Regions from separate parts of the Homo sapiens genome. Here region 1 is linked to region 2. Evidence: fine-mapped expression QTL. A gene starts in region 2. The other region holds a variant in brackets. All regions are shown on one strand. Distances are between the middles of the regions.

The links. PIP is the estimated chance that this variant, and not a neighbour inherited with it, causes the effect.
Region 1: its variant is the best candidate, but not a certain one, in a credible set for the expression of DEK in whole blood (INTERVAL, PIP 0.60).

The regions. Positions count from the first base shown.
Region 1 is chr6:18,281,844-18,287,222 of GRCh38, reverse strand. No RefSeq gene overlaps it. Among named protein-coding and RNA genes, the nearest start is that of DEK, 20 kb to the right of the region's middle. The variant C/A (reference allele first, on the strand shown) is at 2,239.
Region 2 is chr6:18,261,823-18,267,201 of GRCh38, reverse strand. DEK (DEK proto-oncogene) reads left to right here and starts at 2,672. Exons shown (of 11, transcript NM_003472.4): 1 at 2,672-2,817; 2 at 3,206-3,359. The coding sequence starts at 3,215. It overlaps LOC124901270 (a long non-coding RNA gene), which reads right to left and starts at 2,670. Exons shown (of 2, transcript XR_007059486.1): 1 at 2,125-2,670; 2 at 1-1,472. RefSeq lists silencers at 2,312-2,591, 2,632-2,991, 3,052-3,111 and an enhancer at 2,997-3,548.

The sequences.
Region 1 (5,379 bases), 20 kb before region 2:
TCCCTGAAGTGGTAAAGCAAATCAGAATGCATTTCTTTTTTTTTTGGAACAGAGTCTTACTCTATCACCCAGGTTGGAGTGCACTGGTGCGATCTGGGCTCACCAGAACAAAATTACAGCTAGGAAAGAGGACTAAGTTCTAGTGTTCTATACCACTGTAGGATGACTCTAGTTAATAATAATACATAGTTTCAAACAGCTAGAAGGAAGATATTGAATGTATATAGTTTCAAATAGCTAGAAGGAAGATACTGAATGTTCCCGACATGAAGAAATGATAAATGTTTGAGATGATGGATATGCTAATTACTGTGATCTGATCACTATACATTATATGTATCACAACGTCACTATGTACTGCATGAATATGTACAATTATTTGTCGATTTTACAGTTTTTAAATAATAAAGCCAGAAGCAAGAAATAACCTAATACAAAAAGAAAATATATGACTTCAGCATTTATTAATAATGATAATAATTGATTTAAATAATCCTAGATTGTATCAACAAAAAACTAGGAAACGTGGGAGTTGGAGAGAGAGGTAGTAAATGTGCCAACTTTCCCATCTTGCAGAAATAAAGTTAATAAATACCGTTTTCTCCTGGCATTGATTAGGGAAAACATGCATATACATGTGCATATATATATATATATATATATATATATATACACACGCACACAAACAAAAACATTAGCATATACATATATACATACACACAAACAAAAACCCGAAAGGCAGCAGTAGTGGATATTTAAAATATGAGAACTACCTTCCAAACTATCACAGGGAAAGTGAGCAAACATAATAGTATTATCCAGATAACAAAAGAAACACTCTCAATAGCATGGGCAATTCTTATGATATATTGTTAAATTCTTTTAAAGTAGGTCAAAAAGCAAAATGCATAGAAAAAAGTGTCAATTCTGTAACAACAAAATTAGTACACATATATACTCACACACATTATTGTAGTAAATAACTATGAAAGTCATACCAAATTGTTAAATGTGGTTATCTCTGGATGGTAGATTTGGAGGTAGTTTTGATATTCATCTTTAAAGTCCTCTGTATTTTCCCAACCAAAAATGTAAAATAAGGCAATTGCCTGAAATGCTCCTTAACCTTTTTCATAAGCCTATTTATTTATTAGGGACAGGATCTTCCTCTATCGCCCAGGTTGGAGTGTAGTGGCATGACCATAGCTCACTGCAGCCTCAACTTCCCTGGCTCAAGCAATCTTCCTGCCTCAGCCTCCCGAGTAGCTGGGACTACAGGCGTGCACCACCACACCTAATTATTTATTTACTTATTATTTATTTATTTATTTTTGAGACATGTTGCCCAAGTGAGTCTGTTGCCCAAGGTGGAGTGCAGTGGCGCGATCTCAGCTCACTGCAACTTCTGCCTCCCAGGTTCAAGTGATTCTCGTGCCTCAGACTCCTGAGTAGCTGGGAGTACAGGCATGCGCCATCACACCCAGCTTATTTTTTTTTTTTTTTTTTTTGTATTTTTAGTAGAGATAGAGTCTCACTCTATTGGCCAGGCTGTTCTCAAACTCCTGGCCTCAAGTGATCTGCCCACCTCTGCCTCCCAAAGTGCTGGAATTACAGGCATAAGTCACCACACCCGCTCATCAATTTTTTAAAAATTTTGTAGATACAAGGTCTCACTATGTTGCCCAAGCCAGTCTCGAACTCCTGAGCTCAAGGGATCCTCCTCCCACCTCGGCCTCCCATAATACTGAGATTACAGCTGTGAGACACTGTGCCTGGCCCATAAGCCTATTTATAAATTTAAATTGATATAAAAACAATTTTAAATGTAATACTCTCCAAATACTCTTACCTCTTTCTGCTCACATGGTTTCCCAGAAAATATTTAAATGATGATAAAGTATGCTAATGGAGAATATGACTTTTTTTTTTTTTTCCTGAGACAGAGTCTTACACTGTCGCCCAGGCTGGAGGGCAGTGGCACGATCTCAGCTCACTGCAACCTCCACCTCCCAGGTTGAAGTGATTCTCCTGCCTCAGCCTCCCGAGTAGCTGAGATTACAGGTGTGTGCCACCATGCCTGGCTAATTTTTGTATTTTTAATAGAGGAGGGTTTCACTATGTTGGCCAGCCTGGTCTTGAACTCCTGACCTCATGATCCACCCACCTTGGCCTCCCAAAGTGCTGGGATTACAGGTATGAGCCACTATGCCTGGCTGAGAGTATGACTTTAGAAGAAAA[C/A]AAATCATGACTAATTAAATATTATGGGGGAAAGTATTGTTAAAAGCAGTTGCTTGACTTTTTTTCCGTGTGTGTGTGTGTGTGTGTGTGTATGTGTGTGTGTGTGTGTGTGTGAAAAGCAAGGTCTTGCTATGTTGCCCAGGCTGGTCTCAAACTCCATGCCTCAAGCGATCCTCCCGCCTCTGCCTCCCTAAGTGGCGGGATTACAGGTGTGAGCCACCATACCTGGCTAGCTTGAAAATTTAAAGCAAGATTTCATGAGGCATTAATTACGCACTCTCCAAAAAAGGGGACAAAGGTGGGAAGGGGCACACATTCTGTCAACGTTCCCAAGCTGCAGACCAGGAAGCTGACCCCTGCCAAGAGAATGGCTGAGGGCCAGTTGCTTTCTGTACTAGGCCCAAAGTAGAGCCTTTCAAAGTGTTTACAAAGGTTTTCTATGAACCTCCTAATTCAGAGAATAGCCTTTGCCTTTCGGGATATGGAAACAAATGCATTGGAAGAATGGTAGTGAAAGAGAAAGAGAGCCCTCTCCAGATGCAAGGCTTTCTCCTAGGGTAGAAGTGTTAAGATTCCATTGTAATGAGGCAATTGTTCACCTCTTCATGTAAGAAATAACATAGGCCATAATAAATAACAAAGCATAATAAATAACAAAGGCCAAAAGAAGCAGATTAAAATGTATAAATTCTGGCCAAGCCTGTAATCCCAGCACTCTGGGAGGCCAAGGCGGGCTGATCACCTGAGGTCAGGAGTTCAAGACCAGCCTGGACAACATGGTAAAACCCTGACTCTACTAAAAACACAAAAAAATTAGCCAGGCATGGCACCTGTAATCCTGGCTACTTGGGAGTCTGAGGCAGGAGAATCGCTTGAACCTGGGAGGCAGAGGTTGCAGTGAGCCGAGACTGTACCATTGCACTCCAGCCTGGGCAATAAGAATGAAACTCCATCTAAAAAAAAAAAAAAAAAAAAAAAAAAAAAAATATATATATATATATATATATATATATATATATAAAAATTCATGGAACTGAAGGTAAAATTTGTACTACTGCTAAATTGTTAGATTTGTCTCAGATTAATAAATATTTTGTATAGAACAATGACTCTTGAACCCTACCAGACTAATGTTCATTTTTAAAACAAATATTTTGTGAGCTACCCCTTTTATATCTTGAAGTGAAATAGAAAATATAGCCAAATACATACATACTTTAAAAACAAAACAATTCAACCTCCTGATTATAACATAAAGGAGACATAAAGTAAATTCTAATAAAGTAGTATACATTTTAATTTACATAAAGTAAATTCTAATAAAGTAGTACACATTTTAATTTATAACTGCTCTGGCAGGATGATGACACTAAAAGACAGAACTCCTAAAAAGCCTCGAATAAAAAGTTATCGTGCAGTAAAGAATCACCTGCAAAGTGCAGTGGCTCATGTCTATAATTCCAGCACTTTGGGAGGCCAAGGTGGGCGGATCACTTGAGGTCAGGAGTTTGAGACCACCCTGGCCAATATGGCAAAACCCCATCTCTACTAAAAATACAAAAATTAGCCGGGTGTGGTGGTATGAGCCTGTAGTCCCAACTACTCCAGAGGCTGAGGCAGGAGAATGGCTTGAACCTGGGAGGTAGAGGTTGCTGTGAGCTGAGATCACACCACTGCACTACAGCTGGGTGACAGAGCAAGACTCTGTTTAAAAAAAAAAAAAAAAAATGCAATGGAGAGTGTGCAAATTTATCATATTATAGATGTCTTGTAAATCACCAAAAGTTTATGAAATTATTTTTTTAAATGTATGTTTAAAGACATCTTGATTATTAAGGATTCATTCTGCTTTGGAACACATTTTTTATTTTTTAACCATTCAACATTTATTATGTCCTACTATGTGCTATCCCTGGGGATACAGAGATGAAAAAAAAAAAAAACCATGCTTCCTACTCTCAAGGAGCTCACAGTCTAATGAGGGAGACTGACAAATAATTAGACAATGACAATACAGTGCACTAAGTGCTGTGATTGAGGGAAATTTTGAGGTAACACCTGAATTATCTTGAAGTTCATGTATGAGATATAAAAACACACCTTTTTGCTATTATTTTCTAGGCTTGTGTATATGCATGTAAATTCATAGTAAAACATCTGGAAGGATCACACCAAACTAAACATTTCTATTCCACAAGTATTTCCTAAATGTGTCAAGTGCTTTTCTAGGCATTTGGGATATATCACCAAACATAACAGACCAAGATCTCTGCCCTAGTTGCAAAGTCTTTTCAGAATTAGGAAATAGCTCAGATATCTTTTTTTTTTTTTTTTTTTTTTAGAAGGAGTCTTGCTTTGTTGCCCAGGCTGGAGTGCAGTGGTACGATCTTGGCTCGCGGCAACCTCAGCCTCCCAGGTTCAAGCGATTCTCCTGCCTCAGCCTCCTGAGTAGCGGGGACTACAGGCACGTGCCACCACACCCGACTAATTTTTGTATTTTTAGTAGAGACTGGGTTTCACCATGTTAGCCAGGATGATCAGGAGATCTCGTGATCCACCCACCTTGACCTCCCAAAGTGCTGGGATTATAGGCGTGAGCCACCACGCCTGGCCAGATATCTTAAAATGAGTATATAATCATCTATAGACTCACTCCACAGCTTGTATCTATTAGGGAAGCAATGTGGAATGTTAGAAGGGTATGCAACCTTGATCAAGATGCTCCCTTCTCTGAATCACAGATCTGTATAAAGGGAATAATAATGGCTACTTCTTAGGTCCGTAAAGATATTTTCTTAATGTAGGTAAAGTACCTCAATAAATGGTAGTAAATTGTGGTACTAGCAAGAATATCTCTCTAAATGTTCTCTCAAGATTGAATTCAATCCTTTCAGTGCCTATATATGAGGACAAATTATTTTACAACTAGTGAGAGTAGATCTTCAAGACAGATGATCTTGAAAGACAAAAGCATCAAGAAGTAGGACTTCCAGGCCAGGTGTGGTGGGTTGTGCCTGTAATCCCAGCACTTCAGGAGGCCAAGGCCGGAGGAATGCCTGAGCCCAGGAGTTCGAGGCTGCAGTGAACTATGATTGTGCCACTGCACTCCAGTCTGGGTAACAGAGCAAGACACTGTCTCTT
Region 2 (5,379 bases):
ATCCTGCCCACCCCCACCCCCGAAGTCTTTCTCATCTCAACGAATAGCTACTCCTGTTCTCACAGTTGTTGAACCAAAAACCCCAAGGTCATCACTGATTTCTACCTGACTCTCGTGCCCCACATCCAAAACTTTAGAGCATTCTTTGGAATAACCTAGTGGGTCTTCAGATCTCCCATTTTCTTAGGATCTCTTCAAATGTCATCTTATTAATAAGTCATTGCTTCATTGTTGAATATATAAAACAAAATCCCATCCACCCTACTGGTACTTCCTATCTTCTTTAACTTGCTTTACTGCTATCACTAATTGTCATAGAATATATATTCACCTGCTCGTTGTCTTGATGGCAGTGACAGCCTGTCTGGAGCAGCTGCTGAGGGGATGCCAGCTGCAGTATGGAAGGCGTGGCCAGAGCTGCCCACTCCTCAGAGACAGCGGGCGCCAGGAACATGCAAGAGCCCCGTCCCCTACCACGTCAGCGAGGCGGGAGACCCATGTTCCTGGGCACAGCTGCAGCCGTCCAGCCGCAGCTCTGCACCCAGCCATCCCTGCACTCTTGGGGGCCCAGGAAACCCCCTGCCCCTGCAGGCTGAAAGTGCCTGCTCCTGAGGTTGCAGTGAGCCAAGAGCACGCCACTGCACTCCAGCTTGGGTGACAGAGTGAGACCCTGTCTCAAAAAAAAAAAAAAAAAAAAAAAGAATGTGCCTGTTCCCAGGCCTCTACCCTCTCTCTACCCACTCCCAGGGCCCACTCCAAGGCGGAGCAAAGTTGTGGCCAGGCACGGGCGCTGCTGCAACCCAGCTGGGTGTGCACGTGTTCAGGGCAGCACTGACACACCAGCCACCTGCCGCCTTGGCCCTCTCTGGACTTTGGGCACCAACAAGTGCGAGAAAGAGGCTGGTGGGGCTGAGGGTGGCTCCGCGTGGGCCTGCAGGCACCCCTCAGCACAAACAGCCTGGGCGCCATGGATGACATGTTGATGGTGGGAGGCAGACACGTTCCTGGGGGGAAAGGGGTAGGTCCCTGCCCACCTTCAAGCCAGGGATGGCCTGAAGCCTGGGGGGCCTGGTGGCCAGTTCCAGGTAGAGTCTGCAGCCCAGAGTGAAAACTAGTGGTGCTTTTTCTGGGCCCACCCATGGGCCAATCAGCACACACTTCCTCCCTTCTGAGCCCATAAAAACCCCAGACTCAGCCAGCGCTCAGGCCTACCAGCTGCAGGAAGGAGCTACCCACTTTGGTCTCCTCAACTCGTCAGGACCACCTGCCTGCAGAAAGGAGCTGCCCACTATGGGTCTCCTCTCCACTGAGGGCAGGACGCTAGTCGGGACAACCCCCCTGCAGAAAGGAGCAACCCACTTCAGGTCTCAGGAGAGCTGTTCTGTCCCTCAGTGAAGCTCCTGTCCACCTTGCTCACCCTCCAGTTGTTTGCGTGCCTCACTCTTCCTGGACACAGGACCAGAACTCAGGACCTGCCAAATGGTAGGATTGAAAGAGCTGTAACACAAATAGGGGTGAAACACAACCCCCCACTCCCAACCACGTTGCAGGCAGCAAGAAGGAGAGATGAGCTGTGGAGTGTGGATAGGATTTGAGTGGGATAAATAGTGTGGAAAATGGCATACCGTTTGAGGGTAGAAATGACACTATTCGCGTATGTTTTGGAAGGGGAACAAAAGGAAAAGGGAAGATTCAAAGGAAATGTCTAATTTTTGTCCTGCAACCCAGAGTCCAGGCAAATTTCACTGATCACATTTCTATTAAGTCCACTGAGTACAAGGATCCTTCAGGTGAGCTAGTGGTTGAAGAGTTGGGAGAAAATAAAGGAAATCACATACAAAAGAAGGCAGCATTGAGCAGGGAAGATACTGCTTTGAGTGTCTGCAGTGTTGAATGTGTAAAAAGCATCTGCATAGATGACCTAGAACTCTGGGAGAAGGGTCTGGACCCGGCCAAATAACATATTTCCTCTATTATAAAACAGAGAGTGTGTGTGAGAGAGGAGAGGAGAAGGAATGGGGTGGGAGGGAGCCTCTCCCCTTATATTTACAGGGGTGTAAATCTATGTGGCTGGCTATGTGAACCTTTAACGTGGCAGGTAGGATCTTTTTCCTTTCGGTGCACCTTACAAGCGATGCGGTCCTCAGAAATACAGATTTGGGAGTTATCTATCACCCAGCATGATTTCTGGAGCATTGATGAGACCGCTGATTAATTCTCCTCCGCCTCAGAGTAACACTGTCGATAGCGACTTCGGAGATCTCTAAACTTCTTTACCGCGCCCGCCGCGCCCCTCCGCGGCCCGGGACTGCTCATCATCTTTTCCAGGAAGCGACCGTGGAAACAATAAACACGCAGGCCCCCTAGCGTCCTTCCGTTCCGCGCTGCCAGGCCGCCTCGCCTCCCGCTCCCGCCCGCCCCGCGGGACACAGCCCGCCCGCACTCCGGGGCCCGAGCGCCGACCACACTCCAGGCGCAGCCGGGGAGAGCCCCGCGCGCGCATCCCTCCGCCCGCGGCCGAGGCGACCCCTCGCGGTCCCGCCCGCCCGAGCTTCCCGCGGAGGCACCCGGCCGCCCCGCCTCCCCCGCCCCGCGCCCGCCAACTCCCAGCTCGCGGCCCTGATTGGTCGCCGCATTCCCGCTCTCCTTCCCGAACCGCCATTTTGAAAATCTTGTTGATTCTGGGGAGCCGAGCGCGCGGCGCGAGCGTCACGCCAGACAGCGGCCCGCGCGCCTTCTCCTCGGCGTCGGCCGCCGCCGCCTCCCAGAACCTCCTCGTGCCCTCGCGTGCCAGGCCCGCGGCGGCCGAAATCCGCGGTAAGGGCTGCTTCGGGACGCCGGAGGCCCGGTCGCCCCTGCCGCGGCCGACGGGGGAGGGACGCGGCCATTTGGACGGCGGCCTGGGGCGGGGGAGGGGACGTGGAGGGCCGGCAGCTCGGGCCGGGCCGGGAACAGCGCAGGCCGGGCGGGCGCGCGCGCACGCGGGGCAGCGGGCGCGGTTTCCCGCCTCGGGAATCCCTGGACGGCGGCGGCGGAGCGGGAGGGAAGCCGCCCCTGGGGACTGAGCGCTGCGGTCCCGGCTATGGGAGGAGGCAACTTTCAGGGCAGGTGTCCCGCGGGAAGGGTAGCATCATTCAGGGTGGCCGCCCGGTCCTGCCTGCGGGAGTAGGAGGACCGAGACGTCCGGCTTTCTTCCCGCATGCAGGTTCACAGCATGTCCGCCTCGGCCCCTGCTGCGGAGGGGGAGGGAACCCCCACCCAGCCCGCGTCCGAGAAAGAACCCGAAATGCCCGGTCCCAGAGAGGAGAGCGAGGAGGAAGAGGACGAGGACGACGAGGAGGAGGAGGAGGAGGAAAAAGGTGGGGGGAGTCGCATCCCAACTGATGAATTTTTCAGACCGAAGTTTTTTTGTATTTTTCACCCAGGAAACAGTTTTCTTGCTCTTTTGGTGTTTAGAGGCGTGAAGTCGGAGTGATTTTCAGCGAGAATGTGTGCACAATTTATCTGCTTTTGTTTTGAGCGATGGCGTAGAATTGACTTTGTGTATTCCGGTTTTTAAAGTATTTGTTAGCGTGGTAGAGATGTATTGGAGTGCAGCCGACTTCTCGTCCGCTCTAAACGTTCGTTAACATTTCATCATTTGACGGGAAGTTTGTAGGTCTTGGATTTGATTTTTTTTTTTACCTGTGTGTGTGCACCTTTGAAGTTGCTAAGTGGATGTTCTAATTTTGTCCTTTTCATTACACATCTTTTGCCTTTTGAAGTTATTGTAAGGTCTTGGTGCAGCCCGTTAAGACTGAAGTTATAAGGCTAGACCCGGAAGTATTTGAATACTTTCGAATATTTTTACATTTACCAAAAAGTTTCCCTCCCTGGCAAACAGCGGTGAAAGCTGTTGCTACTTGAGAAAGTAGTTAAAAATGAAGAAAGTGAACTCTGAAAGAAAGTTAAATGTGAGCCCAGCACTGTCTCGGTTTCGAACCTGTGTCTGTTTTAAGGGAGGGCGATATGAGCCCTGATTTGACTGGAGGTGTGAAACGGAAACTTGACTGAATAGAGGAGTGTGCTGCGGCAGTTTATCCAGGATGCATGCAGTGTCTGTTTCAGGTGTACCCGCTTCTTGACATGTTTCCAAACATTTAAAAATCCGAGTCGCATCTCTTAGCATTCTTTGATATTAGCTTAGTCTGCGGTTATTTCGTATATGTTTACGACTCAGCCACACTTGGGAAGAGGTTGAAGCGCTCTTCCTAAACCCGGATTTTTTTTAAGCCTCAACCAGCCTGTGGTCACAATCTGGGTTAAGATTACAAGGTGTGCCTTTTGTTTGTTTAAAGTGGTATGTGCCCTAAGAAGGGCATATTTAAGTAAAGCATGGCTTTTTAAATATAAGTTTTCACATAAACTATTGCTTAACAACATGTTATTTTAAAATTATTTTTAATACAACAACAAAATTGGCTGCACTATCTCGCTGCTAGCCAAAGAGGCTCTGCACTTTTTCTCCAATTTTTTGTTTGTATTTTGGTCTTCTGGTGGGGGCAGGGTTGAGATGCCAAAGAAATGGTGAATTTTCTTCATGTCAGGAAAAAATTAGAGAAGTCATGTAAATATACTGTAAGTGGCCAACACAGTAATGCTTGGGGAAGAGTTGGTAGTTGAAAGAATCCCATGTTTTGTTCTAGACAAATTATTTTTAAAAACATGATGTTGTAGAAATTTTATCCCCTAATAGTTTTATTGTAGCTGTGATTTATTATTCTTTTTACTAATTTGAGGTGTTTGTGGGACAAGTAGAATTGTGAAAGTTTTTATTTTACTTAACCCTGAATATTTAACTTTAGAACTGAGGCATCATGGAAGCCAGACAGTGAAATACTTTCTGTATTAGGCTTTTTTTTTTTTTTGCGTTACTATAAAGAAACACTTGAGGCAGGGTAGTTTATAAAGAAAATAGGTTTTATTGATTCGTGGTTCTGCAGACAGTACAAGAAGCATGGCGCCAGTATTTGCTTCTGGTGAAAGCCTCAGGAAACTTCCAATCATGGCAGAAGACAAAGGGGGAGCAGGCATTTCATTTGGGAGTGGGAGCAAGTTGTAGAGGGAGGTGCCATGCTCTTTTAAACAAATCTTGAGAGAACTCACTCACCACCACGGATTACCATGCTAAGCCGTTCATGAGGGATCTGCCCCCATGATTTAATCACCTTACCAGGCCTCACCTCCAGCATTGCAAATCACTTTTCAACACGAAATTTGGAGGGGGCAAACATCCAAAGCATATCATTGCACCCCCGGTCCCCCAACTCTCATATGTTTCTCACATTTCAAGATTCAGTTGTGCCTTCGCAGTAGTCCCCCAAAGTCCGGTCTTGTTTC